Linked DNA regions of Homo sapiens: all the other regions are linked to region 1. Evidence: fine-mapped expression QTL. A gene starts in region 1. Each other region holds a variant in brackets. All regions are shown on one strand. Distances are between the middles of the regions.

Region 1 (11,014 bases):
CAAAACCTCTTGGCTTCAGCTGGTTAATTAGAAGCCAAATCTGACCATGAAAAGCAAATTCAGAACCATTATATAACATCAAAAAGTCCAAAAGGCACACATTTCCTTCTGAATAAACAATGCTTACAAAACTAGCCAAAATTAGCTCAATCAGTGCCACTGAGGAGAAGAAACCAGCTTTTCCCATTTCAACCTATCTTCCTTTTTTATGTTCATAATTTTGCAAATATCAAAAACAGGAAAAAAATGAAAATAGCTATAACAGATACGCACTTTACTAGATTCAAGCTGACAGAGAGAGTCATAGCAATGTAAAGGCCGCAGAAGTTATGAAATTATTTTCTCCTGTTAATACTGTCAGGCATGAAGAAATAGAGTCTGGAGTAGAGACAGCATTTCATGACTACTGACCAAAACTCTTCAGCTTCTTTGACTATAGAAGGTCTTTCCTTTTTTTTTTAGACAGTTTTTTTTTTTAAACCAAAAGTCATCAAATCAAGTTTGTGGCTTGTGACCAGGATTTTTTCAAAGAAAAAGAAGAGATGAGAAAATAGACTATATCAAACAATATACCAAGTAAGGATAGGTTTTGTTTTAGGAAACTGCTTTCGGTTACGTGTTTGTATGTAAGTGTGTCTTGAATTGCTACGTAAAAACGTGAGCTTTCTTACTCTGTGGATTACAGTAAAGCAATCGTGTGAAAGCCATTGTTCTGGGAGACAGGCCTATTAATCAGGCATGTCCTATACTTATAAAGAGGGCTGGTGTTTATCTGAATGGAAGCAAACATGGCTGGCTAAACTAGCAATGAAGGATTTAAACTATTTGTTTTGGGGAAAAAATTTATATGTGTGTGTGTGTGTGTGTGTGTGTGTGTGTATTACACTCAAGTAAGAATCTCTCAATCAGCTAGGAGGAGACGACTTCCCATATAAAATTAGAAATAGGAAGGGGAAAAGGAAGAAAGGGAGGAAAGAAAAAGTGTAAGAAAAAAATTGAGGAATCTGTTAAACTTGAGGAACTCCTAGGATGTCCATTTCTACCTAAAAAAGTTCAGAAGACAGACAAAAAAGGGCAGAGAAGTACTTATTCCCAAGTGGAGAATATCTTCTTGATGAAACTGAAGTGGGTCCTGAGTAGCAGGGCCTGTTTTTGGGGCTTGAACAGGTCTTCTGACTAATAGGAATAACTAACATCTATTAAATGCCACTTCATAATTTCCAGCTGATTTAAACTTCACAACTTTATGAGGTAGGCCCTAACATTTCTCCTGCAAAGAGGATGGGGGTGGCACAGGTGGTTGCATGGGTGGGCAAGGAGAGCAGGTTAAATTCCAGAAATATTAAAAGCAATTGTCAGAGGCTGGGCACGTGGCTCATGCCTGTAATCCCAGCACTTTGGGAGGCCGAGGCAGGTGGATCACGAGGTCAGGAGATTGAGACCATCCTGGCCAACATGGTGAAACCCCGTCTCTACTAAAATACAAAAAATTAGCTGGGCGTGGTGGCACGCACCTGTAGTCCCAGCTACTCGGGAGGCTGAGGCAGGGGAATCACTTGAACCCGGGAGGCAGAGGTTGCAGTGAGCTGAGATCACGCCACTGCACTCCAGCCTGGCGACAGAGCAAGACTCCGTCTCAAAACAAGCAAATGAGCTTAAAAAAAAAAGAAAAAAAAAAAACAGTTGTCAGAAAATATTCCTAGTCATGGGTATTAGAGTATGGAACTTTTCCCCCTAAGGTCCTAATATCTAGCAATTCTAATCAGTATATAGACCAGTCCAAAATTGACATGTAATCATATTACTTACATTTTTCTTTGTCAAAACCAATATAACAGATATTTTGCTTTTTATTCTGGGAATGGCAAGTTAGTAGACATGTCATCCTTATGTGATTTTAGTCCTGCATTTTTTGACATTATTAAATGCAATAATTCATAATGAATTAATATTAATACTAATGATAAATCAAATCCAATGACAGTAGGATTTTTAAATTCTATTAAAATTAGCAGGTCTTCTCATTTCAGTCTCTTTGCTTCAGCAGCATGTTATAAGAATTTTGACCAAAGACCTTTCTCTCTATGCTTTATATATTCTTGATAAATTATAATTTCCACTAATCTTATTCCCTGTGGATAGGTAATTCTTTTTCAAGGCTGACATATAATTATTTTTTTAAGAGATGTAGAAGGACCAAACCAAATAATCATTACTTTTCAAAAAGGCAACATTGATCTCACTTTTTAATGTTTAAAGTGCACCACACAAGGCAAATACTCCCCAGTGAGAAAAAGAAGATAAGGTGCAATTTTTCAGAAAATGCTATTGCATAGGCTTAGTCTGATGTGAGTCTTCCTTGGAAGCACCAAAGTCCTGAGGTTTAAACAAATCAGGAGAAATAATTTTGCGTTTCCGGGCCAGGGCAAAATTCTGCTTTAATCACTGAGCTGGCATTAGTGGGACTTTTAACATTAAAAAAAAAAAAAAAAAAAGTCCCACTAATGCCAGTGATTGCCCTATTCCTAAAGCCTTTAGCCAAACATTGTAAGGACAGCCTGGACTCAAAGAAGGGGAGTGAGGCTGGATCAAAGTCCAACATCAAACTAAGTTAAGACCTTTGGATTAGAAAGTCGGCCTGCACACTGGGACCTGTTGTGGGGTGGGGGGAGGGGGGAGGGATAGCATTAGGAGATATACCTAATATTAAATGACGAGTTAATGGGTGCAGCACACCAACATGGCACATGTATACATATGTAACTAACCTGCACGTTGTGCACATGTACCCTAAAACTTAAAGTATAATTAAAAAAAAAAAAGAAAAATAAAAAGTCGGCCTGCAAAGCCAAAGTTGCAAGTAAGCAGGAGGGCTCCGCATGAAGGACAGGTCGAGGCCAACTCCCTAAGTGTTGATCTGTCTCAGCCTCAGCCTCAGTTTCCTTATCAGTAAAACGGGGACGAGAGTTCCCTGCGAAGATTAACCAAGCTAATCTAGGTTAAAAAAAAAAAAAAAGAAAAGAAAAAGAAAGAAAGAAAAGAAAAAAAAAGTTCCTGGCATGTACCAGTTGCTCAACTCTTGAGTGTCCTTCTCGGTTTAAACCGACGGGGGAGAGTCAAAGCCTCCGGAGCCAGAGGGCGGCTAAGGCCCGCACGGTCCCCGGGCTGGAGGCGACCGAGCCCGTTACCTGATCGCGTTGACCGGCGGGTTTCGGAGGCGGATTAGCGCCAAGGCGTTGTGCAGCCGCGTATACTCGGCCATGTTTCCTCTATCACCGAGGGCACCTCTGCCTCTCGCCGTCAGGCAAACCACTTTTCCGGGCGCGCCCGGCCTCCTCCAGAGGAGGGACGCCGGCTGGGCCAATGCGAGCCGGGGCGCCGCCTCCCGCCGCGCCTCTTCCCACCCAGCCCTCCTCTCCCGAGACCCCACCCGGCGCTCTACAGACGCTTGTCGCTTTCCCTTTATTAACTCCCATGCTGCTCCCACCAGAAGGTACAGCAAGGAGAATGATGGAAAACAGCTGTAATTGCCGGCAAGTCGAAGTTTGTAACCCCTTGGCCCATAGGGGCTGGCTACTGAGGACAAGTTCTGAGTTCGCTGAGACGGGCAAGCTGTCCTCATCGCGGTATTCATCTTCATGATCTTTCTGAACAGGGACAGATACCTGGGGCCCTCCCTGACAGTTATGTGATATTGATACACATCTGGAACACATAAAATACACATTGTTCATTTCACCTAAATGAGTAGGGTACTAATGAAACAGCCTTTGCAAAAATTCTAACAGTGAGAAAATTATGGCAGTCAAAGAGATCTGATTTAACCAACCCCATCTTGCCTTTAGCTGCCCTTAATTATTCCTGAGCTTAGGCCAAGTTAACTTTGGGAGACATTTGGTTTATAGTTTAAATGATAATAGCCCTTCCCCAAAACTCAACTGCCTTTGTAAAGCTAACCGAGAGACCACCAGGCTAGGAGGACAGAGGAGTGTGAATTCTCTCTGCTAAGGTGTAAACATAGACCATTGCCAGCCATTATTCCGGAAGCCACCAGATAGACAACTTCCCCATTTACTCCTGCAGGTAACATTACTATTGTAGAACCTAAGTTTGGCCTTTTGAGATATTTTTTCACGTTTGCCTGACACTGATGGCTCCACCTGGACCAGTCAACAGCTCCTGTGGCCCCACCCACAAGCAACTCAGTACAAGAGGATAGCTTCAACCCCTATGATTTCATCTCCAACCCAACCAGTCAGCATTTTCCATACCCTAGCCCCTGCCCACCAAACCACCTTTGAAAAACCCCTAACCTACTAGCCTTCGATGAGATTGATTTGAGTAATAACTCCATGTCCCATGTGGCGTGGCCAGCCTCACATCAATTAAACTCTTTCCTTACTGCAATGCTGTGGTCTTCCTGAATTGATTTTGTTTGTGCAGCAGGCAGGAAGAACCCATCCAGTGATTACTCTAACATCAACCAAATACTTATATAACATTGTTACTAGAGGAGGGTCTGGACTGCAAGTTGTCCAGGTTCTTGGCGTTTTGAACAAAGAATTGGACGAAACACACAAAGCAAGGGAAAAACAAAGCAACAGAAGCGAATATTTATTGAAAACGAAAAGACACTCCACACGGTGGGAGTGGGCCCAAGAAAGAGGCCCAAGGGACCTTGTTACAGAATTTTCTGGGGTTTCAATACCCTCTAGAGGTTTCCCATTGGTTACTGGGTGTACGCCCTATGTAAATGAAGAGGACGAAGTGAAGTTACGAAGTCATTTACTCAGTGTACACCCTATGTAAATGAAGAGAATATTTCCTGTCATAGCTGAAGTGTTTCCATTTGATTTAGTTCTAGAAAGTCTTTAGGTTCCCTGCCTTCAGGCCCTATACTCCTGCCTCAACATCTTTTTTTTTTTTTAATTTTTATTTTTTGAGACGGAGTCTGGCTCTGTCGACCAGGCTGGAATGCAGTGGCGCGATCTCAGCTCACTGCAAGTCCGCCTCCCGGGTTCACACCATTCTCCTGCCTCAGCCTCCCGAGTAGCTGGGACTACAAGCGCCCGCCACCACGCCTGGCTAATTCTTTGTATTTTTGGTAGAGATGGCGTTTCACCGTGTTAGCCAGGATGGTCTTGATCTCCTGACCCTGTGATCCACCCGCCTCGGCCTCCCAAAGTGCTGGGATTACAGGCGTGAGCCACCGCACCCAGCCCACAACATCATTTTTATTTGTCTTACAATCACATGCAACTAGCGAAACTGTTATGGGTGGACGGTGTCCAGGTTCTTGGCGTTTTGACCAAAGAATTGAAAATGCAAAACAAAGCAAGGAAAGAATGAAGTAGCAAAAGCAGAGATTTATTGAAAATGAAAGCACACTCCACAGGGTGGGAGCAGGCCTGAGCAAGTGGCTCAAGGGACCAGTTACAGAATTTTCTGGGATTTCAATACCCTCTAGAGGTTTGCATTGGTTACCTGGTGTATGCCCTATGTAAATGAAGGATGATGGTTGGGTGCAGTGGCTCACACCTGTAATCCCCGCACTTTGGGAGGCCATTGTGGGCAGATCACAAGGTCAGGAGTTTGAGACCAGCCTGATCAACATGGTGAAACCCTGTCTCTAATAAAAATACAAAAATTAGCCCGGCGTGGTGGCACATGCCTGTAATCCCAGCTACTCAGGAGGCTGAGGCAGGAGAATCACTTGAACCTGGGAGGTGGAGGTTGCAGTGAGCTGAGCTTGCACCACTGCACTCCAGCCTGGCAACAGGCGAGTCTCCATCTCAAAAAAAAAAAAATAAATAAATAAAATGACAATTTAAATGTTTAAATGGCCCATCAGGTAGCCAAATGTACCTGAAGCTTTGATTGTAAACCAAACATTGGTTATAAACTATTTTAGCAATTTATAAGTCAGCAAACCAGTATATATTTAATCTGGATCATTTTATCTTTTCCATGATGAGTCACGGAATGCAGAAACTTTAATAACAAAAGCTTTAAGGACTCAGGAAGAACAAGGTGGCCATCTTGGTTTTCCATGAGTCCATGCTTAACACTGGACTTATGTCCTCTTGAATACCAGTTGTTTCTCCAATTTAGGTGCATAGCACTGATAACTAATGGGTTTTCATAGCTGATTTGACTTAGACCATGGAGTTCAAATGACTTTAAATAGTGATAGTTAAAAACACTATTGACAAGGAGATTTGGTTATTTCTGTGGTCTACAATAACACAATAATTATGATTGATAGCATATACTCAGACATATTAGAATTTTAGAAATTCCATACAATTCTGGAACATATATTAATATCATTCACTAATATATAACCTGAAGATGATTAAACATTATTTTTTATTTTCACAATGCTTCCCATGTAACTAAACATATCAAATAATCCTGTTTACCTCTCTTTTGGATGGTTCACGGGCCTGCTGTAGCATCTCAAAGTTTGAGGTCAGAAAAGACAATTTTGAAGCTGCAATTTGATTTTGGGAAGCTTGTTAAATGTTTATAAAAATTAACATTCTCATGCCTTCTCATTATATTTTACCATTCATTCAACCAGTTTGCACAAAGAGGGGCCAGAAGTCCAACTGGTAAGAAATTCTTACCCTTTTGCCGGCATGTCAGCTTTCTTGAGTTCTCTCTCCATGAGCAGCCCTAGTGACCCTGCTCAACTGTATGCAAACAAACACATTGCTATGAATTAAGAATATTCACAAACAATTTACAAATTTTGAAGAAATTAGGCAGAGAGAGAGAAATATGACTCAAGTTCTATTTACAAAAGTATACTCAATATACTTAAAGTATCAGGAAGCCTAATATCCAAAAAGTTAGTTTAAGGTTAAAAAGCTTAGTGTGCTCCACCAATTCCTGTGAGCTCAACAAAGGTAGCCTAGGAATTCCAGATAAATGGAACAAATGATGACTTGGTAGAAATGCATAGAAAATAAAATAACTATTCACAGAACCAAATAAAAGCCTTCCACTAGAAACTAAAACAACAAACAAAAAAATGGTTTTCTATTTATGCGACCACAAGCAAAGCCTGGAGGAGAATAAACAGCAAACAAATGAAAATTAGAAGCAAAAACAAACAGGAACCCCACCCTAAATTTTTCCTACTCAATCTACCCTGGAGGCTACAGTGTTACTCAGGGCCCCCAAACACCCATATAATGAATATTTTATTCCTGATACACCATTCAATATCCTTAAGTCCACCAATATCATCATACATCCTGTACAATCAAGAAATTCACTCTAGGCACATGACCAATAAGTACTCCAGTGCCAGCACTATCCATGCAAAACAGTAAACGGTGTGAAGCAATGCATGCATGTATGTGAAATTTAGCTCCATACTTAACCAGCTTCATGCTTAAGTATATTAAAAAATATACTTATATTTCTTATTTTACTTTAGGCAAGACTAAGAGCTCTAACTATGAAATGTTAATTAGTCAAATTTCTCCAATTTTCTATCAGGTTTTAAGGAATATTTTATTATCTAAACTTTTTTTTTTCACATTTCTCTCCCCTACTTACTGGTTCCTTACTACATTGTTTCATAAATAACCTTTTCTTTTTTTTTTTTAATTATACTTTAAGTTCTAGGGTACATGTGCACAACGTGCAGGTTTGTTACATAGGTATACATGTGCCATGTTGGTTTGCTGCATCCATCAACGCGTCATTTACATTAGGTATTTCTCCTAATGCTATCCCTCCCCCAGGCCACCACCCACCGACAGGCCCTGTTGTGTGACGTTCCCCTCCCTGTGCCCATGTGTTCTCGTTGATCAACTCCCACCTATGAGTGAGAACTTGTGATAGTTTGCTCAGAATGATGGTTTCCAGCTTCATCCATGTCCCTGCAAAGGACATGAACTCATCCTTTCTTATGGCTGCATAGTATTCCATGGTGTATATGTGCCACATTTTCTTAATCCAGTCTATCATTGATGGACATGTGGGTTGGTTCCAAGTCTTTGCTATTGTGAATAGTGCTGCAATAAACATACGTGTGCATGTGTCTTTTTTATTATTATTATACTTTAAGTTCTAGGGTACATGTGCACAACGTGCAGGTTTGATACATAGGTATACATGTGCCATGTTGGTTTGCTGCACCCATCAACTCATCATTTACATTAGGTATTTCTCCTAACGCTATCCCTCCCCCAGCCCCCTACCACCTGACAGGCCCTGGGGTGTGATGTTCCCCGCCCTGTGTCCAAGTGTTCTCATTGTTCAATTCCCACCTATGAGTGCGAACATGAGGTGTTTGGTTTTCTGTCCTTGTGAGAGTTTGCTGAGAATGATTGTTTCCAGCTTCATCCATGTCCCTGCAAAGGACATGAACTCATCCTTTTTTATGGCTGCATAGTATGCCATGGTGTATATGTGCCACATTTTCTTAATCCAGTCTATCATTGATGGACATTTGGGTTGGTTCCAAGTCTCTGCTATTGTGAATAGTCCTGCAATAAACATACGTGTGCGTGTATCTTTATAGTAGCAAAATTTATAATCATTTGGGTATATACAGTAATAGGATTGCTGGGTAAAATGGTATATCTAGTTCTAGATTCTTGAGGAATCACCACACTGTCTTCCACAATGGTTGACCTAATTTACACTCCCACCAAAAGTGTAAAAGCATTCCTATTTCTCCATATCCTCTCCAGCATCTGTTGTTTCCTGACTTTTTAATGATCACCATTCTAACTGGTGTGAGATGGTATCTCATCGTGGTTTTGATTTGCATTTCTCTGATGACCAGTAATGATGAGCATTTTTTCATATGTCTGTTGGCTGCATAAATGTCTTCTTTTGAGAAGTGTCTGTTCCTATCCTTTGCCCACTTTTTGATGGGGTTGTTTTTTTCTTGTAAATTTGTTTATTTGTAGATTCTGGATATTAGCCCTTTGTCAGATGGGTAGATTGAAAAGATTTTCTCCCATTCTGTAGGTTGCCTGTTCACTCTGATGATAGTTTCTTTTGCTGTGCAGAAGCTCTTTAGTTTAATTAGATCCCATTTGTCTATTTTGGCTTTTGTTGCCATTGCTTTTGGTGTTTTAGTCATGAAGTCTTTGCCCATGCCTATGTCCTTAATGGTATTGCCTCAGTTTTCTTCTAGGGTTTTTATGGTGTTAGGTCTTACGTTTAAGTCTTTAATCCATCTTGAGTTAATTTTTGTATACCGTGTAAGGAAGGGATCCAGTTTCAGCTTTCTACATATGGCTAGCCAGTTTTCCCAGCATAATTTACTTACTAGGAGATCCTTTCCCCGTTGCTTGTTTTTGTCAGGTTTGTCAAAGATCAGATGGTTGCAGATGTGTGGTGTTATTTCTGAGGCCTCTGTTCTGTTCCATTGGTCTATATATCTGTTTTGGTACCAGTACCATGCTGTTTTGGTTACTGTAGCCTTGTAGTATAGTTTGAAGTCAGGTAGCGTGATGCCTCCAGCTTTGTTCTTTTTGCTTAGGATTGTCTTTTAGATAACTTCTGAATTAGACAAAATTATTCTTTTTCTCATAAACAACACAACTTTTTCAGGCACATTTTGTATACAGAATTATGTGTTAACTAGAATTCTTATCCTTAGTAACCTAAAACTTTAATGAAATCCTAAAAAGCAAGAAATCCTGAACTATCAGATATGGGCATTTTTAGATAAGAACAATTATACAATTATACATATTTCCCCATATCACAAACCTTTCTTAATTGGAAATGACCCAGATATTCAATGAACAACCCAAATAATTTTAAGATTTTAATTTACATAAAAAGTTTCCCTAAAACATTTATTCCATTCACTGCACTCAGTTCATTCCCCTTTTTGTTTTTTGTTTTTTTTTTTGAGACAGCGTCTCACTCTGTTGCCCAGGCTGGAGTGCAGTTGTATGGCCTTGGCTGACTGCTACCTCCACCTCCCAGGTTTGAGCAATTCTCCTGCCTCAGCCTCCTGAGTAGCTGGCATTACACGCGCCTAGCCATCGCGCCTGGCTAATTTTTGTATCTTTAGTAGAGACAAGGTTTCACTATGGCTGGTCTCAAACACCTGACCTCAAGTGATCTGCCCACCTAGGCCTCCTAAATTGCCGGGATTACAGGTGTGAGCCACTGTGCCTGGCTAATTCTTTTACTTTTTTAACAGTTTATCTAGATTACTTCTGTAAACTGAGGTATTAGACATTATCATTTAAAGTTAGTTGTTTCCTTGTTAACCATGTTTTCAATAGCCAGTGAACATCAGGTGCTCACCTAAACCTAAGTAAGAGCCTCAAAGTTAAATACATTGGTATTTTTACCAGTAACTCAGAAGATTTAGCAAATAATATTAAATTACTCTCATTTGTCAAAAAAAAAAAAAAAAAAAGGCACTCAAACCAAGATCATTTTGTTTTGGCTGGGTTATAGTTTTATAACCTTCTATGCCAAACACTGACATCTCAAAGTATCTAGCAAAGACAAACATAAAATCCAGACCAACATGTATGCTGACAGTTCTGAAGGCATACCTATTTTTATTTTATCAATAATTTTAAAACAAACTTGTTTAGTAAATTATACTTAAGTCACATGAATTTGAAATTGCTTAGATTTATTTACTTAATATATGAGTGCTCTTTTACTTATGTCAACTTGGTAGACATCATATAACAATAAGTGTACATACAAATAACCACATCTAGACATGTATACACACACACACACACACACAAAGATCCGATAGCTTGGAATGCTAGCCATGAGATAGCAATATAGGCTTGCCAGTTTTACTTTGTTTGCCCCAATAGGTAATACAATGCTGTGAACCAAAATTTCAGGTAAAGCAGTTTTCACGGCAGTTTGATATTTAAAGGCCAAACCTCCCCAGATTCCAAAGAACACTGGGGCCGAACAGCACCAAAGAGAACCTCACATACTAACCAGTCCTGACCCTGCTTAAAACAGCAGCCCAAAAGCCTGGATACATGCAACT
Region 2 (11,014 bases), 72 kb after region 1:
AGTTTCTTGGGTGACTTTGGCCATCAGTGGTCTCTGTCTCTTTTTGTGATCATCTTGTCATCTTTTGTGTATCTTTGTTTCTTAGACAGTGCATTTGATGGAACCCTTTTTCCTAGATCTTTCTTTTGTCTTGGTTGCCAGGAAATTACACCATCCTGCTCCTTTTCAAAATCCTCTGTCCATCCCTACTCTGTTTTCCATGCTTCTCTGGTATTACCCTGTGTTTATATTTCACAGCTCAGTTTTGGCCGCTCCTTCCTCACTCTGTATAATCTTTCTCAGTTATCTCAGTTCTGTTCTCTCATACTGTGTATCCAGATGCCTTTTGGACAATTCAACTAGGACATTTTAGAGTCACTTCACACTTTGCCTTTATAAACTCACTCTCACATCCCCGGTGCCTTGCACAGTAGGTACCAACAAATATTTATTGAATGAATGAGTTAAATGAATCTCACTCCCTTCATCTCATTTCTGTCTTTTGTCACTGGTGTCACTGTTCTGATCTCTCTTTGATATTGCAAGTATTTTTTATTTTTTCTTTTGAAATACATTTTATATTTGATTATTTTCACTGTAATTTCATTATCTTTACCCTAATGTAGGCCCTCGTCACCTCATGCCAAGATTACTTCCACAGTTGCCCATCTGACCTTTTTGGTTCTAACTTCTCCTTTCTCCAAGCCATTTTCACTATAGCTGTTCTAATAATTTTTAAAATGTTTGTTTATTGGGAAAAAAGTCTATCTATTGTTTTAATAAACTTTTTGTTTTTGAAATAGTTAGAGATGTATAGAAAATCTGCTAAGATAGTACAGAAAGTTCCTGTAGAAACTTTACCCACCTTCTCCTGATGTTAACATCTTACATAACTATGGCTCATTTATCAAAATTAAGAAATTAACATTGGTACATGACTATTAACTAAAAGCCAGACTTTATTTGGTTTTCACCAGTTTTTCCATGACTGTAGTTTTTCTATTCCAGGATCTAATCCAGCGTACCACATTACATTTGGCATACCTTTTTTTTTTTTTTTTTTTTGAGACGGAGTTTTGCTCTTGTTGCCCAGGCCGGAGTGCAATGGCGCGATCTTGGCTCACCGCAACCTCCACCTCCCGGGTTCAAGCAATTCTGCCTCTGCCTCCCGAGTAGCTGGGATTACAGGCATGCACCTCCACGTCCAGCTAATTTTGTATTTTTAGTAGAGATGGGGTTTTTCAGTGTAGGTCAGGCTGGTCTCGAACTCCCGACCTCAGGTGATCTGCCCGCCTCGGCCTCCCAAAGTGCTGGGATTCCAGGCGTGAGCCACCGTGCCTGGCCACAGTCACCTAATTTTTAAATTCCAGTATCCTATTAGATATCTGTACTATAATTTAATTTACCAGTTCCTTCCTGATTTCCATCTTTTTCTTTTGCCAACAATGCTGCAGTTAATATTCACGTACATGTGTATGTTTTTAGTTATTGCTGGGTGAAAGTGTATGTGTTCATAATTTGATTGCCAATTTGCTCTTCAGAGAGGTTCTATCAATTTATCCTCCATTATTTTCCCATAACCTCACCAACATTGTATCTTATGAAACTTTTTTAACTTTGCCAATTTGTTAGGTGAAAATATAGGTTAAGATGACGTCATTGTACTTTTAATTTTGATTTCTCTTATAATGAGTGAGGTTGAGTGTCTTTTTATTTTTATTTTTATTTATTCATTTTTTTGAGACGGAGTCTTGCTCTGTCGCCCAGGCTAGAGTGCAGTGGTGCGATCTCAGCTCACTGCCAGCTCTGCCTCCTGGGTTCACGCCATTCTCCTGCCTCAGCTTCCAGAGTAGCTGGGACTACAGGCACCCGCCACCACGCCCGGCTAATTTTTTTTTATTTTTTATTTTTAGTAGAGACGGGGTTTTACCATGTTAGCCAGGATGGTCTCTATCTCCTGACCTCGTGATCCGCCTGCCTCGGCCTCCCAAAGTGCTGGGATTACAGGCGTGAGCCACCGCGCCCAGCCGAGTGCCTTTTTATATATTTAAGAGCCATTTATATTTCTTCTCTGAACTGTTCATGTACTTTGCCCACTTTTCAATTAGGTTGTTTATTAAAGCACCTTTATTATTTTATTTTCTCGCTTTAAAATCTTTTGATTCCTCCCATTTTCTGATATTTTAATTTTAAATCCTAGTCCCTTTTTCTAGACTTTACATTCTATGTTTCAATTCCGATTTCCCAGTACTTTTCAACAACCACCCCTGCTATGACCAGCCTGGTTTCTTCCCTCTCCCAGGGGCACACCGTGCTTGCCCCTTCCGCCATGCTTTCTTTTCTAATGTTCCCCTACTTTTCTCCTCCACTTATATCTCCTATTTTGAGACAGAGATTCATGTCATTTCCTCCATTTGTGTAAACTTCCTTTTAACCTCAAGGAGACTTCTAGAAAAAAGAATTAACTTATAGTTTGTAAACTCTTTAAAAAAATGATAATCACTAAGAACCGGCACAATTAAAAAAAAAAAAACTGCTCAAACAAACTACATCTTCATTTCCATTAGAGTTTGACAAGATTGGGATGCTGTGGACATGTCTTTACTTACAAGGTATTTTGTTCTCCTGACATATTTGAGGAACTACAAAAATATAAGCTGTATGAGAATAGGTGGTTTTGTAGCTGATCAAACATGTGCACCCAAAGAATATTGATTTATGGATCAGTATCAAACTAAAGGTCTCTAATAACATGTTTCAGAACTCTATTCTCAATCTTGACTGTTCAATGTTTATTTACTAATAATTTGGGTGAAATCATGGTCATTAAGTAGACGTAGTTAGGCTGAAAAGGTTACTTACTATGACAGAGGACAGCCAGCATGATTCAAAATGATCTTAATAATTTGGAAAAGTGGGCTAAAACCAAAATGTGAAATGTAAAAAGGTTGTATGTAGGACCCTGTGTTTCATTTCTAAAATTAACTGAGAAAAGAATGAGGGGGTTCTCTCACAAGGACAGGTCATTGGATTTAGAGCCCACTTAGATAATCCAGGATGATCTCATTTTGAGATCCTTAGTCACATCAGCAAAGCCTCCTTTTCCAAATACAGTCACATTCATAGATTCCGGGGATTTGACATGGGTTCTTTCTGAGGGGCCACCATTCAGCCTACTACAAAGAGGAACTTGCAGCCGTCACGTGTGTCGCTTTGCATCCCTTGCTCTCTCCTCCTCATAGACTGCTACCTTGGCTCAGTGTCACCTCAAAACTGCCTATTTGGTTTTGGGAGGTAGAGGGGTGGTTAAAAGCTGAGAAGGTAAGAAGGACCAGGTATGATCAGACTGGCTGTGAAGGGGATTCTGGAACTTGAAGCAGAGGCTTTGGGCAGGACCAGCTTCCTGTCAGGTTCAAGTGTTCCCTTGTCAATCACATTCTGTCCTTTGGCTGCTGAAAACCTTCCCATGGCATCTCAGTGTATGAAATCCAAACCTCTCCCCACAGTTACAGGGTCCCTGACTACTTTTTTGGGCCTCACATTTGGTCCTTGATCTCTGCTTTGGCCACACTGGCCTTCGTCCTCTTGGTTCTTGAGCAAGCCAAGGTCATTCTTGCCTCTGAACCTTTACATTGGCTGTTCCTTTGGCTGAAACACTGTTCCTTTCTACTTGCTTCACGCTTGGTTCCTTCGCTTGAAACACTGTTTCTTCCCCTCACTCCTCAGTTCATGTTCCTCTCAGCTCAAACTTCCCTCCTTCTCAGTGAGTCCTGAATATTGAGTTTTCCCCAGTCACCCTGTTCTCTTATCATCACAGTACTTGGCACCCCATGAAATTTCCTGGTTTGTCTATTCTCCACCCTCCTGCTGGAATGTCCGTCCCGGGAGAATAGGAGTCTTGTCAGATGGATTCATTGCTAGCACAGTGCCTGGCAGGTAGCAAGTGTTTACTTTGCAACTCCAGGGGAAAGTGGGATTCTCAGACCCATGAAATCCAACTAGGATCAGCTCAAGCCCTTTCCACATATACTTAAAAGCCTCAAACCCCACCACGCCCCCAGGATTTTAGCAGAATCTGGAGTGGCTCCTGTTCTCCAGGGCACCTCTGCCCTGGAGCAGCTTATCTATTGATCCAGACACGAATCTTAGCCTGTTCCTCAGCTCCCACAAGAAAGCCCGTCCTTACAGTAGCAGCTGACATTTACCCAGCAGTTACTATGTTCCAGGCACAGGTCCAACTACTTTGTATGAGCTACATCACTTCATCCTACCTAAAAAGTAGGTGAAATATTGTGCCCGTTTTACAGATGAGTCAGCTGAGACCCAGAGAGGTTAAGCAAATTACCTAAAATCACTCAGCAAGTAAGGGATAGAACCAGGATTCACACTTGGGAAACTTGTGTGTGTTTGATCCCAACACAGGAAAGAAAAAAAAAAATGAGGGTACAGCTAGGCACTTGGTTTAATGTAGCTCATGGGCCAAAGACTTAGGAGGCCACTAAGTTAAGAGTATAATGCTTTAAAAATTTGAAATAATCTTGATTTGCATTTATAAAAGTACAGCACCCAGATTAATGAATTTGATAGTTCCACAACTTTTTTTCTGCATCAGTTTTCATTTGCGTATTCTGTTCAGTCTTGAGTATTATATTTTAAAGGAGCTTGAAATTAAAGTACCTGTATTATTTTTCTATTGCTCCCATAACAAATTATCAAAAACTTTGTGGTTTAAAAACAACACAAGTTTATCTTATAGTTCTGTAGGTCAAAAGACCAACATGGGTCTCACTAGGCTAAACCAGGGTGTCATCAGGGCGGACACTCTGGGGAAAAATCAGTTTCCTTGCCATTCCTAGCTTCTAGAGGCCACCTGCAGTCCTCTGAGGCCCCTTCCTCCATCTTCGAAGCCAGCGAGAGCTAGTCAAGTCCTCCTATCACATCTCCCTGACCACAGCTGGGAGGGAAAAGTTCACTGCTTTTCAAGGATTCATGTGACTAGGTTGGACTCCTCCGGATAATCTCCCCATTTCAAAGTCCTTAAACGTTAATCACATCTGCAAAGTCCCTTTTGCCATGGAAGGTAACATATTCACAGGTTCTCAGGATTAGGACATGGACATCTTTGAGGGGTGCATTATTTTGCCTATCACGGTGCTTGTTGCAGAAGATCCCCAGGATAGTGAAGGGGTCAAATTGGACTCAGAGAGTCAGACTGAAAAGAATTAAGATGATCTCCAAATTTATTGCCTGGGAGAGAATAAAATAATGTTCATAAAGTGATTAGTGCAGTAAGTATGTAATAAATGGTTGCTGCTTCAAAGGCTAATGGTAGAAATTACAAGGCTGGGCGCAGTGGCTCACACCTGTAATACCAGCACTTTGGGAGGCCAAGGCGGGCAAATCACCTGAGGTCAGGAGTTTGCGACCAGCCTGGTCAACATGGTGAAACCCCGTCTTTACTAAAAGTACAAAAATTAGCTGGACACGGTGGCGGGCGTCTGTAGTCTCAGGTATTCGGGAGGCTGAGGCAGGAGAATCCTTTGAACCTGGGAGGCAGAGGTTGCAGTGAGCCAAGATCGTGCCACTGCACTCCAGCCGGGACAACAGAGTGAGACTCTGTCAGAAAAAAGAAAGAAAAGAAAGGAAGGAAGGAAGCAGGAAGGAGGGAGGGAGGGAGGGAAGAAAGGAAGGAAAGAAGGGGGAAGGAGGGAGGGAAGGAAGGAAGGAAGGAATAAAATAAAGAAATATGGTAGCTCAGAAGGGAAAGAAGCTTAGGAATGTGGCAAGAGATGAAGCAGTATCATATTTTATCTTGCAAAGAATAGAATTTGGGATCCATGTTCTCACTTTACATCAGATCAGCCGGTGGTTTGAATGTCAGAAAATACTACGTTTACCAAGAACTTTCTTTCACTAGTAAAAAAGTCAGGGAGAATGGAGATGGGGGAGGACTATAGTGGAGAAACAACTTTCTGGCCCTTTTCTGCCATGATTGTACAATGTATAGCTTCTGAGGAGGAAGGGAAAGTTGTCTTTTTGTTTTTTGTTTTTTGAAATGGAGTTTCAAAAAGGAGCCTCAGCCTCCCGAGTAGCTGGGATTACAGGCACCCACCACCACACCCAGCTAATTTTTGTATTTTTAATAGAGACAGAGTTTCACCATGTTGGCCAGGCTTGTCTTGAACTCTTGACCTCAGGTGATCCGCCCGTCTCGGCCTCTCAAAGTGCTGGGATTACAGGCGAGAGCCACTGCAGGTGGCTGGGAAAGTTTTATGAGAGGAAAGCAAGATATTTGAAGCTCAGAGGACTATCCTTTTCTTTTTTCTTTTTTCCAGGAACATATGGGAAAGAAATCCCCTCGGAAACCAAAGCCCAGCCATCGGAGATTTTAAGATTTTTCAGGCTTTCCTTATAATCTTCCTTACATTTGTCTCTTTAAACACATTTAAGTCGACCTTTGAGAAGTTGCTGATAAGCAGTTATCAAACAAGAGTTAGAGTAACAAACCCTCCCACCTCGCTGTGTTGGTTGGTAGCTTCCAAGGCCACTGTAAATGTGTATCAGTGTGAACCTGATCCAGAAACAGCCAGGAAGGGAGCAAAGTTTAGTTTAGTCTGTGAGGAAACTGGCGGCTGCTGGTAGTTCCATGCTGTCTGTTCAGACTTCAGCTTGGTGTAAGTAGTTTTTTTTAAAAAAAACTATTATGACATTTTCATATAAAAAGGATTGTAAGAATAATTTCCATCAAAGATTAAATCAAGTTTCTACCTGGCTCTAAATCTTAGGGATTAGAACTACTGAAAAGAAAGTTTCAGCACTCAGCAGTAGTTTTATTTTTTTTTAATGGAAAAGAAAGCCGTGAGGTGTATCAGCAAGTGTGCTGCTAAAACAGGTCCCG[T/C]GTGCACGAAATGATTTCTAATGTCTTATGTTGAGTGCAAGTGTTTACAGTTAGAAAATAAAAGTGAGTATGTACCTAGTGCCGAGAGATTGTTTCTAAGCAGTGCTTAGATTTATCCTCATGTTCTTTCCAGTTGCTTTTCCTCTGGTTTAGATTCATAGTTACAGATTCATGTCAGCAAATATTTAGCAGTCTCTCAGATCATTAAATTGGAGGTTTTGATGTTCAAAGAAATTAAAAGAATGAGAATAAAGTAGAACTTAATATCCTGTAACAAGATGTTGGGATCCAAGATTTAAGAGCAGCAGAATGTATTTTCAAAGAGGAAGAACTTTGTAAAACAGAAGTGGCAAGCAGCCTGAGGTTTCACGCAACTTCGGAGAAATCTGTTTTCTTAAGATTTGACATCTGTATGGATTTTTCAGACTAAATTCCCAGTACTATGGTGCGTAAAATGAGTTTCATATATGAAATTAGAGTTGCCGTGTTTCAGCTCTTCTGTCTTGAGATTAGGATCCAGGAACTACACATTGTTACACAAACATATTGACTTTATTAATGCAGCCATGAGAATGTTAAGGTCGCATGTGGTGTTGGAAAGGTTGGTATTTTCTATTTCCCTTTTACCACAATGCATTTTTAAAAAACCTGGTACATGACAATTATATGACTTTTAACTATATAAAAGGTCGAATTAGCCAGTAGCCTTTTTTTTTTTTTTTTTTTTTGAGACGGAGTCTCGCTCTGCAGTGGCACAATCTTGGCTGACTGCAAGGTCCGCCTCCCGTGTTCAAGTGATTCTCCTGCTTCAGCCTCCCAAGTAGCTTGGATTATAGGCGCCCGCCACCATGCCTGGCTAATTTTTTTTTTTTTTTTTTTTTTTTTTTTTTTTTTTTAGTAGAGATGGGGTTTCACCATGTTAGCCAGGATGGTCTCGATCTCCTGACCTCGTGATCCACCCGCCTCGGCCTCCCAAAGTGCTGGGATTACAGGCGTGAGCCACCGCGCCCGGCCTAGCCAGTAGCCTTTCAAATCACTGGAGGAGTGCTCAGAAGAGAGATTATTTATATAGACGTTCACTGGGTTTCCCCTTCCTCTGTCTTCATCTCAGACCTCAGTCTGTTTCTCTATCCTGCTTCTTGTTTCTGCTGTACTGAGCGGGAGCTCAGATCATGGTGCTGGGCCCCAACTGAATCTCGGTGAGATGGAATCCAGGACGCGTTGTCCTAAGGCTCTAGGGCTACAATGAACTGAAAACCTTAACTCACCCTCTAGCTTTCTGAATCTCGTGATTCTAGCCTCTTGAGCTGATTAACTTCTCCAAGTCAATAGCTTCTGCTGGGCCAAGTTCCTCATTTACTTGTTGGTTGAGGAGAAGGAGTGGAGGGCTGGGGGGTGTCCTGGGAAAGAAGCCAGTGTGGCAGGTAACATTGTTACTAGGGAAGCAGCTATTTTTCTCATGGGACTTGAAATGTTTCAGTCTTTTAACAACCTGGAAGGCCATACAGGTGTGTACTAGCCGCATGGTAACAAGCCCCTTTGAAAACAATGTTTTTAACCTCCAGTAGGTGCCCATACCATCCAGACCACTGCTCGTGCCCTACAAACCAGCCCTCAGGATCTGGCTTTCAAGCATGTGTTTTACATCATTGCCTGCCATTGTTCTCACTCAGGTTGCTCTAGCTACAAAGGTGTTTTGCTTTCTCTTGAACACATCAGACCTGCTCTTGCCTTAGGGCAGCTGCTGCCTAGAAAGCTCTTCCCCCTCATTGTTTCTTCCCAGCCTTCATTCGGGTCTCTATTCAAATAGCTCCTCCTCAGAGAGGCCTTCCCAGACTACCCTAACTAAAATGGCACCCTACTCCACTTCCACCATAACACTTTTTTTCTTTTAACCTAATTTACCTTTTTTTTTTTTTTTTTTGAGACGGAGTTTCACTCTTGTTGCCCAGGCTGGAGTGCAATGGTGGGATCTCGGCTCACTGCAACCTCTGCCTCCCGGGTTCAAGCGATTCTCCTGCCTCAGCCTCCCCAGTAGCTGGGATTACAGACATGCGCCACCATGCCCAGCTAATTTTGTATTTTTAGTAAGGAGATGGGGTTTCTCCATGTTGGTCAGGCTGGTCTCGAACTCCCGACCTCAGGTGATCTGCCTGCCTTGGCCTCCCAAAGTGCTGGGATTACAGGCGTGAACCACTGCGCCTGGCCTTTTCTTTTCTTTTCTTTTTTTTTAAGTAGCCACCTGGCAGTATTTATTTTATAAATTAAAAAATGTGTGTACATATATGTATGCCTGTGTGTGTATGTGTGTGTGTGTTGTGTTATGTAGGATATATATTTGGTCTTTCCCTCTAGAATGTAAGAACTTTGTCTTGTTCAGGGCCATATTGTCAGTGCCTAGGATAGTGCCTGCTTGACATGTAGTAGACACTTGGTAAATCGTTGTATGACAACTGGTGTCATTAAAATTTATTTCCAACCATAGGAATTTTTTGAATAGATGATATATTCACATTTCCAAGACCAAAACATATCAACTTCCCACTCCAGCCAGTTCTCCATCCATTCAGCTCCCATTCAGGGTCCCCAAACCACGGCTATTATTTTTCCATGTATCTTTCCAGAGTTTCTTGATATATGTAGTAAGGAAATATAAAAGTATAAATAGATTCTTATTTCCCTCCTTTTTACACATAACATTATACGTAATGTTCTAAATGTTTTCAGTTGTAATATATGTTGAATCTCTTTCCATGTAAGTACATAGAGAGTGTCCTCATTTTTAAATAGCTGCCTACTAATCCATTGTACGGATGTACTGTAATTTATATAACCAGTCACCTGTTGATAGACATTTTGGTTGTTTCCAGTGTCTTCCTATTGTAAACAATGCTGAAGTTCATAGCCTTGTACATGTATCATTTTATACATGCATACAGTATATCCATATGACTAAATTCCCCAAAGTAGAATTACTGGATCAAAAGGTATCATAAATATTGCCTAACTGCCTTCTTTAGGGATTGTACCAATGTGTACTCCCCCCCCCCATTATAAGAGTACTGTTTCTCATATCCTTGCCAACAGAATCATCAGACTTTTGGATTTTTGCCAGTTTGATAGGTTAAATAATGGTTTCAGCATAGTGTTTGTTTTTTAGAATTTACAATAAAATTTGTGTTGAAGTTTTAAAAACTAATTTTCATTTTTAATTGTGGTTAAAAATCCTATAACATAGGTAACCATTTTTAAGTGTACAGTTCGGTAGTGTTAAGTATATTCACGTTCTTGTGCAACAGATTTCCAGGACACTTCTGTCTTGTGAAACTGAAATTCTATACTCATTAAATAACAACTCTCCACTTCCTCCTCCTGCTAACTCCTAGCAACTACCATTCTACTTTCTGTTTCAATGAATGACTAGTAGCTATCTCATGTAAGTGGAATCACACAGTAATTATCCTTTTGTGGCTGGCTTATTTCACTTAGCCTAATGTCCTCAAGGCTTATCCGTGATGTAGTATATGGCAGGATTTCCTTCATTTGTAAGGTGAACAATATCCCATTGTATGTATATGCCATGTCCTGTTTATCCATTCATTCATCAATAGATATTTGGGTTGCTTCTACCTCTTGGCTATTGCGAATAAGGCCTCTGTGAACATGGATGTGCAGATATCTCTTTGAGGTCCTGCTTTCAGTTCTTTTGGCTATATACCCAGCAATGGGATTGTTGGATCATATGGTAATTCTATTTTTAATTTTTTGAGGAACCACCATACGTTTTCCATAGCAGCTATACCATTTTATCATAGTTTTAATTTGTATTTCTTTCATTATGAGAGGGGTTGAGCATCTTTTCATATTTAAAATAAATGCCTTTTTCTTCTGTGAACTCTTCATATTCTTTGCCAGTAATGGAATTTTTTTCCTATTTTTAATTTGATAACATTTTTTGTTCTTGTGCCCTTGAGTTTTCCAAATTTATAAGCTAGTCTAGTAGTCGTACATACAGGTATGGAATAAGACTACCTGGGTTTGAATTCTAGATCTACTAATAGCTGTGCAATCTTGATTGGACAAGTTACTGAACCTTTCTGAGCCACATTTTCTTATTTGTTAAATTGGAATAACATT
Region 3 (11,014 bases), 48 kb before region 1:
CTCCTGTCGGATCAGTGGTGGTATTAGACTCTCACAGGAGCGCGAACCCTATTGTGAACTGCGCATGTGAGGGATCTAGGTTGCATGCTCCTTCTGAGAATTTAATGCCTGATGATCTGAGGTAGAACAGTTTCATCCCAAAACCATCATCCCCCAATCCGTGAAAAATTGTATTCCGTGAAACTGGTCCCTGGTGCCAAAAGGTTGGAGACCACTGTGCTAGACAGCTGGGCAAGGGTTAAGAAAGTTGATGCTTTTACACAAAAAGGCAAATATCATATGTTCTCACTCATATGTGGGAGCTTAAAATGTAGATCTCATAATGATACAGGGTAGATTGGTGGTTGCCAAAGGCCAGGAAGGGGAGGGGGGGATGGGAGATGAAGGGAAAAAAAAGGATATAAATATATTTATTACTACTGAACTGTATACTTACAAATCGTAAAGATGGTTAAAAAAAAAGAAAAAAGAAAGAAAAATCAGAATAAGGGCTATAGACTAAATAATAGTTCTTTATATTAATTGCCCTGTTTTTTAAAATAAATTATACTGTGGTCATGTATGAGAATATTAATTTTAGGAAATACACATAAGTCTGTAACTTTTTCTTAGGGTTCAGAAAAGAGAGAGGGAAATAAAACAAATATAGTAAAACGTTAACATTTGGAGGATCTGGATAAAAAGTATATGAGAATTTTTTGTACTATTATAACTTTCCTGCATGTCTTTAATTATGATTAAAAAAACTTAAATATAAGAAAAAAAGAAAAGAAAGAAAGTTGATGCTTTTAGTAAACTATGGACCCTCTCCCCAGAAGATTGTACCTAAGCTGGTGCAAAGAATGCTTCACTTACCATCTCAAGGGATTTAAAATCCACCAAAGACCGTTCTTGAGCCGAGACTAAGAGCAAGTGAAGCTTAGGAAAGTGGCCCAGAGAAGCCAATCAGGGAGCTAGCATCTGAGGAAGGAAGATATTTTGTTTGGGAAAATTCCAGAGGGAAAAAAAGTAAGGAAGCCATGGTTTCAGGGTTAAGATGGATTTGAGGATAGTGGTTTTGAACAGGTGAAGTGAATGGATCGGGGGACGGAAAGACAGAGACTTGATTGCAAATACCCAGCTATGAGAGTGACAGGCCACACCTTGAAATGTGGTACAAATCATCATCATCAGGAAATCCAGGAATGAGAGATTCATACAGGGAAGAGGTAGCATAGAATAAAAAATGCTAGGCCAGGAATGGTGGCTCACACCTGTAATCTCAGAAATTTGGGACGCTAAGGCAGGTGGATCACTTGAGGCCAGGAGTTCGAGACCAGCCTGACCAACATGGCGAAGCCCTGTCTCTACTAAAAATACAAAAATTATCTGGGCATGGTGGCAGTAGTCACAGCTACTCAGGAGGCTGAGGAAAGAGAATCACTTGAACCTGGGAGGTGGAGGTTGCAGTGAACCGAGATTGAGCCACTCCACTCCTGCCTGGGTGACAGAACAAGACTCTGTCTCAAAAAAAAAAAAAAAAAAAAAAAAAAGAATAAAACATTCCCAGTCTGGAGTCAGACCTAGGGTCAGACTTTCACCCTACTCGTGTTTAGCTCACCATTGAGAAGGCTGGCGTCTCTAGGCCTCTCATGTTAAAGAAGAGAGCTCATGGGGTGGTGTGAGAATTAGCTTAGCTAACACAAGTAATGTGTCTTACGTGAAACCTAGCATCCGGTAGCCCTAAGCAAATGGTAGCACATTACATGAGCAGATTTGGAGGATTCCATTCATTACCCCATGGTCTTACCAACAACACCAACTGAGGAGACAGGCCGCGCTGATGCTGTTTTCCACGATGCTCCGGAGGGAGTTGACCACTTATTTGCTTTCCTTTCAGCGAAGAAAGCATATTGCAGGGCTCTAGCCTGCCCTGATTGCAAAAGATATAGAAACAGCTCCTCCTCCTTCTTGATGCCCACTTCATAGGGATACTGCACAGCAGCCTGGACTGCACGGACACAAGCCTCCTGTGCAAGACACCCAGGGTGCTGCCTCCGCATCTTCAAGAGGGCCTCACTAAAAATGCTGTCCATGTTGGGCAAGCTCTGAATTGGCTTGTTGCAGAGTCTACGGGATTCTAGAGGTTGATCTGAAAGGAATAAGAAGGATCAGAGCTTTGGAAATGTTACTTGTACAAAGGGAATGTGAATATATAGTAATAACAATAACCTGTTCAAATTCAAAGCACAAACTAAAAGCTATTCATTAAGACATTTAATGTACACTAAACATATGTACACTAACATCTCTGATATCTTTGCAACACAGTCCTACAAGATAGAATTTAGTAGACTCAAAGCAATTTTAGGTTACCTAGTTTAGGCATAAAAGTTGTATTTTCTTTTTAATCCAAGACCAAGACAATTTTATAATAGATTAATGATTAATTAATTAAATTAATCAATAGATTAATATTTAATCTGTAATTAATATTAATATATTAAATATTAATGAGTCTAAGGAAAACGGTTCTGAGTTAATATTTTATTTATTAATTTTTAAAAATTATTTCAGCTTTTATTTTAGATTGAGGGCATACATGTGCAGGTTTGTTACATGGGTATATCACACGATGCTGAGGCTTGGGATATGAATAATCCTGCCACCCCAGTAGTGAGCATAGTACCCAGAAGTTGGTTTTTCAACCTTTGCCATCCTCCCTCCCTTCCCCTGTAGTAGAGACTCTAGTGTCTATTATTGAGTGAATATTTTAGATTCAAAATAACCTTAACTCCGTTCCTAATAGTAACAAAAACTTTAAAATACCTAGAAAAGGAGACAGCGTGGTATTGATGCAAGGATAGGTATATATATCAATGGAAGAGAATCGAGAGTTCACAAATAAACTCTTACAATTATAGCCAATGATTTTCAACATAGGTGTCCAAACAATTCAATGGAAGAAAGGAGAGTCTCTTTTTTTCACATTCAGAATTTTTATTTTAAAACAAAGAATCGGAGCAACATTAACAACAGAAAATCCATATGGAAATATTCACAATCTGCTCAGTGAGAAATGGGAAAACAACTTTCCTGCCTTACTGCCAACCTACTGTTTGAGGAGCCAGAAGTTGACGTGAGGTTGGAAGGTCACCTTTTCCAGCTAAATCCCACTGAATAGGTGTGTGCATTTTTATTCAAAGTCTCCGCAACCAGAGGGAACAGAACTGAGAACAAAAATACTGTTATTGGCAAGGGTTTGGCTAAAGGGTCTGGCTAAAGGGTCTGAGATGTGCAAGCACCAAGAAGGGATAGGGAGATTGAGCAACACATGAAAAGAGGGGCTGTAGGAACAAGCACCGAGAAAGTAAGTCAACTATAACCTACTTCCACCCAGAGCAAAGTGACTGTGCACATAAATCCACACTCTCAAGTGTGGGCTACACTGCACGCTGACTCATACGATCTCAAACGTGGTTTATTGGAAAGATTCTAGTCCCCTAAGGGCACTCAGCGAAGGACCACAGTGACATGGTAACAGATGCACACAAGCATACTGTGACCCTAAAGCAACAACACACTTTAGATAATAATCGTTCAGAAAAAAATCCTCAAAAGGAGAATCTTTCAACAAATCGTAGTGGGATAATTGGATATCCACATGCCAAAAACAATAAAAAAAAAAAAAAATTTAGGTCCTTACCTAGCACCATATATAAAAATCAACTGAAAACAGATCACAAATCTAAATTGAAGAACTAATACTATAAAAATTCCTAGAAGAAAATATAAAAAAATTTTCAGGACCTTGGGGTTAGGCAAAGTATTCTTAGATACAACACCAAAAGCATGACATACAAAAGAAACAAGAAATCAGACTTCATAAAAATTAAAGACTTTTGTTCTTCAAAGGATATCAATAAGAAAATGAAATGACAGCCAGGTGCAGTGGCTCACGCCTGTAATCCTAGCACTTTGGGAGGCCGAGGCGGGTGGATTGTCTGAGCTCAGGAGTTCGAGACCAGCCTGGGCAACATGGTGAAACCCCATCTCTACTAAAATACAAAAAATTAGCTGGACATGGTGGTGTGCACCTGTAATCCCAGCTACTCGGGAAGCTGAGGCAGGAAAATTGCTAGAACCTGAGAGGTGGAGGTTGCAGTGAGCCGAGATCATGCCATTGCACTCCAGCCAGGGTGACAGAGCGAGACTCTGTCTCCAAAAAAAACAGAAAAAAAAAAATGAAATGACAAGCCATAAACTAGAAGAAAATACTTGTGTGGTAGTCAGAATAACACCCCCCCCACCAAATGTTCATGTCTTAATTCCTAGAATCTGTGAATGTATAACCTCACATGGTAAAGAGATGTATAGGTGAGAGTAAGATTAAAGACCTTGGCTGGGCACAGTAGCCCACGCCTGTAATTCCAGTACTCTGGGAGGCCGAGGTGGGCAGATTGCTTTGAGCTCAGGAGGTTGAGACCAACCTGGGCAACGTGGTGAAACTCTGTCTCTACCAAAAATACAAAAAATTAGCCGGGCATGGTGGCGCACCCCTGTGGTCCCAGCTACTCTGGAGGCTGAAGTGGGAGAATCGTTTGAGCCTGAGAGGTTGCAGTGAGTGAGCCAAGGTCGTGCCACTGCACTGCAGCCTGGGTGACAGAGTGAGACCCCATTTCAAAAAAAAAAAAAAATTAGACATTGAGATGGGGATATTACCCTGTGTTATCTGATTGAGTGCAATCTAATCATATGAGTCCTTAAAAGCAGAGAATCTTTCCTGACTGTGGTGAGGGGGATTCAACAAGGAAGAAGGGTTAGAGAAATGCAACATGCAAAGGACTCGACCTGTTGGCACTGATGTAGCTTTGAATATGAGGAAAGGAGACCAAGAACTAAAGAATGCAGTGTTCTCTAGAAGCTGGGATTGACCTTTAAGGTTTACAAGGTCGCAAGTTTGCAAGCAAGAACATGGGGACTCTGATCCCACAATGCAAAGTACTGAGTTCTGCCAACAACCCAAATAAGCAGGAAACAGTTTCTCCCCTAGAGCCTCCAGAAAAGAGTGCACCAGCTGACACCTGGATTTTAGCCCAGGGAGACCTCTACAATACTTCTAGTCTACACAACTGTAAGAAAATAATTTCGGATGATTTAAACTGCTAAGCTTGTGGTAATTTTTTAGCACAGCAATAGAAAATATAATTGGCACATCAAAT[A/G]TCAAATAAAGAACTTGTTTCCAGAATATGTAACAAACTCTTATGACTCAATAATTAGGTAAACAATGTAATTTCTTAAACGGGCAAAAACTTGAGCAGTTATTTCATCAAGGAGCATATGTGAATGGCTAATATGCACACAAAAAGATGCTCGACATCATTAGTCATTAAGGAAATGCAAATTAAAACCGCAACAAATGTGGTAGACAGACTCTAAGTAATGGGCTGTCATTTCTAGATTAGGTTACAAAAAGACTCTGGCTTCAGTCTTGCTCATACTTTCTTGCCCTCTCAAATTGGTCACTCTGATGGAAGCCAGCTGCCCTGTTGTGAGCCACCCTATGGTGAAGCCCACGTGGCAAAGAACTGAGGGAGGCTTTCAGCCCACAGTCAGTGAGGAACTGAGGCCCTCAGTACAACAGCCCATACGGAACTGAATCCTACCAACAACCGCTTGAGTGAGTTTGAAAGCAGATTCTCCCCCTGACCCCTAATCAACCTGAGATGACTACAGCCACAGACAACACCTTGATTGTAGCTTTGTTTGAAATCTGAAAGCCAGAGGACCTAGGACACTTGGATTCTGGACCCACAGAAATTGTGGAATAAATGTTTGATTTTAAGCCACTAAGTTTTGGGGTCATTTGTTATGCAGTTAGACTTACTAGAATGACTATAATAAAAAGCCATCACTACTGAATGTTGGTGATGATGTAGAGAAACCAGAAGCCTCATACGTTGCTTCTGAGAGTGTAAAACAGCACATTGCTTTGGAAAACAGTTTAGTTGTTTCTTAAAAAGATAAACATAAACTGATTGTTCAACCCAGCAATTTCACTCCCAGGAATCTACACAAGAGAAATGAAAGCATATGCCATAAAGAAAACTTGTCTACAAATATTCATGGCAGCATTATTTATAATAGCAAAATCTGGAAACAATCCAAACATCCATCAGCTGTTGAATGACTAAAGAAATTTGATAGAGCCATGCAATAGAATATTATTCAGCAATAAAAAGGATCAAACTGTTGATACATGCTACAATACAGATACAGATGAGCCTCAGAAACATTATGCTAACTAAAAGAAGCCAGATGCAAAACATTACATATTGTATGATGCCATTTAGATCCAAGGTCCAAAAAATGCAAATCTATAGAGACAGAAAGATCAGTGGTTGCCTAGGGCTGGGGATGTGAGTAGGAGTTAGTGTTAATGGGCATGAAGAAACTTTTTGTGGGAGTGGACAAGTCTTAAAATTGATTTATGGGGATGGCTGCACAATCTATAAGGCAAATCACGCCTCATTAAAACTGTTAAAGTGTATCTAGAAATGAATTTATCAAGAAAGGTACAAGACCTTTCAGAAGATAACTATACCATTTTATTGAAGAACATAAAATAAGACCTTAATAAAAACAGAAAAGCACCATGCTTCTGGATATAAATATTTAATAGCATAAAAATATATTTTCCATATGTATTATATATGAAATTTTAATAAGAATCCTTATGGTACTATTTTAAAAAATAACTTTACAGAATGATTCCAAAGTTTTCATAAAATAATAAATTCATAACAACTTACAGTTACCAAAACTTCAGCTATACCAGAAGTTGTTTTCTATAATGTACTGGCATCTCTTAAAAAATAAAACCATTTTATCAAAAATGTACATCTTAGTTATTTAGACAGAAAGCCTACCAGGGCTTATACCAGAGCAGTTTCACCATAAAAAGACATATGAACATAAGCGCATCTGGCATTGAGCCCCTCTGGCATTGGTGTGTTAGGCGTGTCCAAGGGAACGTGAGTAAGGTTTGGATGTAATCATGTGCACATGGTAATATAGATATATTGTATAATCTCAGCCTCCTTTTTAAATCAAAGAGACAAGAATATTTTCTTAATGCTTGATTAGTAAGTAGTGTTGGAAAGAATGAGTTTCTGAATTAATGATTTCCCATATGATGTTAAAGAATAGGATTCAGGAATGGAGAGAAGACAGTGGTTATAGGCATGTGGTCCCTCTCACCCTACTACTTTGAAAAAACATGAACCGTATCCAATAGGCCCACCAATTACTTGCTCAATTACCCAAAGAGTTAGCCCAATCCTCAATTTAAGGGAAAGCAAACTCAGCAGAGAAGAATGGGGACTCCCCCAGGGTCTACAGATGATTTAATGTGCCGGTGACCTAAAAGGAAGACAAGAATGGACAATGGGGAGAGGAAGGAGAGAACAAGAGCATGGAGGCACAAGCGGAGGAGGAAGGCAGGCTGGGCTGCCGGTGCAATCTATGCCATGTAACAGGGCATAGACAGCGCTGGGATATCTTAGAGTTGGATCTCTGTCTTGTGATACTACCTCTGTTCCCAGCATTCCTGGGGGTGCTTCTCAACATCATAGCACACATCAGATTTATTTGAAGAGTTTACGAAGTTCAGATGCCCACATCATACCTCAAAATTAACTGCTGAATTTTTTAAGAGTAGCCATGCCCAGGCCTCACCATAGATTCAGTTAAGAATCTTTGCCGGGCACAGTGTAATCCCAGCACTTTGGGAGGCCGAGGCAGGTGGATCATGAGGTCAGCAGTTCAGGACCAGCCCAGCCAAGATAGTGAAACCCCGTCTCTACTAAAAATACAAAAATTAGCCAGGCGTGGTGGGTGCCTGTAGTCTCAGCTACTACTCGGGAGGCTGAGGAAGGAGAATCGCTTTGAATCTGGGCGGCAGAGGTTGCAGTGAGCCGAGATTGTGCCACTGCACTCCAGCCTGGGCGACAGAGTGAGACTCTGTCTCAAAAAAAAAAAAAAAAAGGGAATATTTAAAGGTGGGGCCTAGTAAGACTATTCTTGAAAAGTTCAGAAGCTGATTTTAAGGTATAGCCTCTGGGAGCTCCAAGAGCAGAGAGTGTTGTCCGCCACTGAATCAAGGACAGCTGCAGTTCCTGGCAATTTCATTTTAGGCCAGAGATTGAAAAGAAAAGATGGGAAAAAAAGAGAGGAGAGAACAAAACTGAAATGAAAAGAAAGCCTGCTTAATGGTGTGCAGTAATTAGTTCTGATCAGCATAATCCTATTATCCCGGGGACACTGAAAACCTCGCAGACTGCATATGGGCATTTTGGGAGCTATCCAAGGCACTTGTCTAGACCAGTCCTAGGGCCAAACTAAGCATACCCACTGGAAAATTTTGGATCCGGGCACAATCATAGATGGTTTTTCCCTGCTCAATTTCCTATCTCTTTCTTGCTACAGCTATAACTAAGGATGCTGTTATCTTACAACTTCAGTTATAAGATATTCAGAATTTCCCCTTTGGGTGTATAAGTACAGTTGTTTTCAAAGTGTATTTCTTGTATACTTGGTAGTTTTCAAGTCACTCAGCAGTACCTATACAATAAGAGAGGCAAGTGTCAGTATGTCAGCATCAGCATTGGCTGCCCAGGGAAATGGGGAGGAAAGGAAGTAATCAGTGATTCAAATATACTATTAATTGAATTCTTTCCTTGACCCATTCACATTTTTTCTTAGTTCTATGAGGTATTCTATGACATTTTTGATAAAAAAGATAAGTGAGTCACGTTTCTGAAGGAACAAAAGGAGGTGATTATTTTCCCTTCTTCTTCTGCTGTAATGGCAGGAAAAGATTTTCTCTGCCTAGGCTAAAGAGAGACTCAACATGCGGTTCACGGAAATCGTGAACACAGACATCAAGGAATCTGTCTCTCTCTCTCTCTCTAACCCTGATAAACAGAAAGCTGTGTCCATCATAAAAGCTTTGCAAAGGACAGACAGAATAACTGCACATTAACAGGCTTCAAGAAGGTGACCCACAGAACTTGTCTAGCAGGTAAAAAGGAAGCTCAATTTAGACATGTGCGTAGGCCTCCTATGTAAGGCAGGTCACTCTGCTCTTTTGAAACATGTTCATATAAATGTTCACAGCGGGTAAAAATAAATTACAAAGTGAAGAAGATAAAATGAAGAGAAAGACAAATAAAACCACTAAGGTTTTTTAAAAGCCACAACTCCAAAAGAACAAATAGACCAAGGTCTTTAGGCAGAATTAGAATTGTTAAAAGTGGCTAACACAGCCCAGCACAGCCACAGGAACAGGACCAGGGTTCATTACAGAAAGGAAAACGGAGCATTAGGTTCCAGAGTTGACACTCCCAGCTGGATAATTCCCTGTGCCCATTCCAGCTGGGGAAGGTAGAGAGAGAGAGAGCCTTTAGTCTCTTGGTCTTTGAATAACAGCACACACATTCAGCATCATGCCAGAAACATGCACATGAGAACAGGAGTTCTTAGTTCAGAAACAGGCAGGCTGCTAGCCACATGCATGTGCAAATATATAGCATTTTATAGGATGCTCCCCTCCCTAGTTTAGCCAATGCAATCTGGTTTGGCCAAGTAATTCTGCATTGCACTGCTAAATCCATTGCACTGCAGTAGTCTGGGAGGCTTCATAGAATACGAACATTAAAATGCATAAAGCTAATGAACTTCCACAGTCAACTCACCAGGATACAGTGTTAAGTTTGTAGAGAAATGTGCCGCTAAGTCCCAAATTGCGTTTTAGGTATGTTAACCTTCTACACTCCCTTCCCACTCGTAATTGGTTCCAAAAGTGCTGATTGGAACCTTGACCATTGGAAATTCCCTTTTCTCCCTCCTTTCCTATAAGAAGTAGAAACTAAATAAATGTTCTTCATCTTCTTCTTTCGTTGTTGTTGTTGTTTTAAAGCAAACATTTGAGCAGTGGGAGTGAGAATAGGCTGAATAATTGGAATATGGTTACAAATGGGAAAAGGGAATACAAAAATTCAACATGTATTTTTTTAAGACAGAGACAGACTTTGCATACCACAAAAGTCACCACTTTAAAGTGTATAGTTCAGTGTTTTTCAGAATATTCACAAGGTTGTGCAACCATATGTGTATGCATTTTAACCATGCCTTTCATAACTGATTTACAAAAATATCTTTAAGACTATAGCAGCTGGGTGCGGTAGCTCACGCCTGTAATCCCAGCACTTTGGGAGGCAGAGGCAGGTGGATCACTTGGGGTCAGGAGTTCGAGACCAGACTGGTCAACATGGTGAAACCCCGTCTCTACTAAAAACACAAAAATTAGCCGGGTGTGCTGCCTTGTGCCTGTAATCCCAGTTACTTGGGAGGCTGAGGCAGGAGAATTGCTTGAACCCAGGAGGCGGAGGTTGCAGCGAGCCAAGATTGCACCATTGTACTCCAGCCTGGGTGAAGAAGCAAGACTCTGTCTCAAAAAAAAAAAAAAAAAAAAAAAAAAAGACTATAGGTAGTGTTTGCGTGTCAGGTGTAAAAAAAATCAAAACTAGCAAAAATTATCTCCTTTCTTACCCTTGTTCTCTGTATATCAATGGTTCTCAAAGTGTGGTCCCCAGAACACAGCATCAACATCACCTAAGCATGTTTGTTAGAGATACAAATTCTTGGGCCCCACCCCAGATTTAATGAATCAGAAAGTAATGAGTGGGGCCCTGCTAACCGTGCTTTAACAAGCCCACCAAAAAGCAATTTTGATGCACAGTGAAGTTTGAGGACCATGGCTCTAGATCAAGACAATTGCTCTAGCTTTCCATAACTATAGATTTCTAATAAATGCATATATATTTAATGTAATTAACATATTGAATTTTTGTGGAAACTTTCCTTCAAGTTAATCCATCAATTTTGTTCTGCTAAATGACCACACACTAACCACTGTATTTAAAACAAAGAGGCTGGGTGCGGTGGCTCACGGCTGTAATCCCAGCACTTTGGG

The links. PIP is the estimated chance that this variant, and not a neighbour inherited with it, causes the effect. A credible set is the group of variants that fine-mapping cannot tell apart.
Region 2: its variant is the best candidate, but not a certain one, in a credible set for the expression of EHHADH in fibroblasts (GTEx, PIP 0.88).
Region 3: its variant is the best candidate, but not a certain one, in a credible set for the expression of EHHADH in whole blood (TOPMed, PIP 0.78).

Annotation. Positions count from the first base shown.
Region 1 is chr3:185,250,761-185,261,774 of GRCh38, forward strand. EHHADH (enoyl-CoA hydratase and 3-hydroxyacyl CoA dehydrogenase) reads right to left here and starts at 3,289. Exons shown (of 7, transcript NM_001966.4): 1 at 3,189-3,289. The coding sequence starts at 3,262. MIR5588 (microRNA 5588) reads right to left here and starts at 2,512; the gene lies at 2,450-2,512.
Region 2 is chr3:185,322,310-185,333,323 of GRCh38, forward strand. It overlaps a transcript of MAP3K13 not described here. Among named protein-coding and RNA genes, the nearest start is that of MAP3K13, 35 kb to the right of the region's middle. RefSeq lists an enhancer at 10,317-10,376. The variant T/C (reference allele first, on the strand shown) is at 6,878.
Region 3 is chr3:185,202,627-185,213,640 of GRCh38, forward strand. EHHADH (enoyl-CoA hydratase and 3-hydroxyacyl CoA dehydrogenase) reads right to left here. Exons shown (of 7, transcript NM_001966.4): 6 at 1,790-2,131. Among named protein-coding and RNA genes, the nearest start is that of MIR5588, 45 kb to the right of the region's middle. RefSeq lists an enhancer at 5,724-5,773. The variant A/G (reference allele first, on the strand shown) is at 5,202.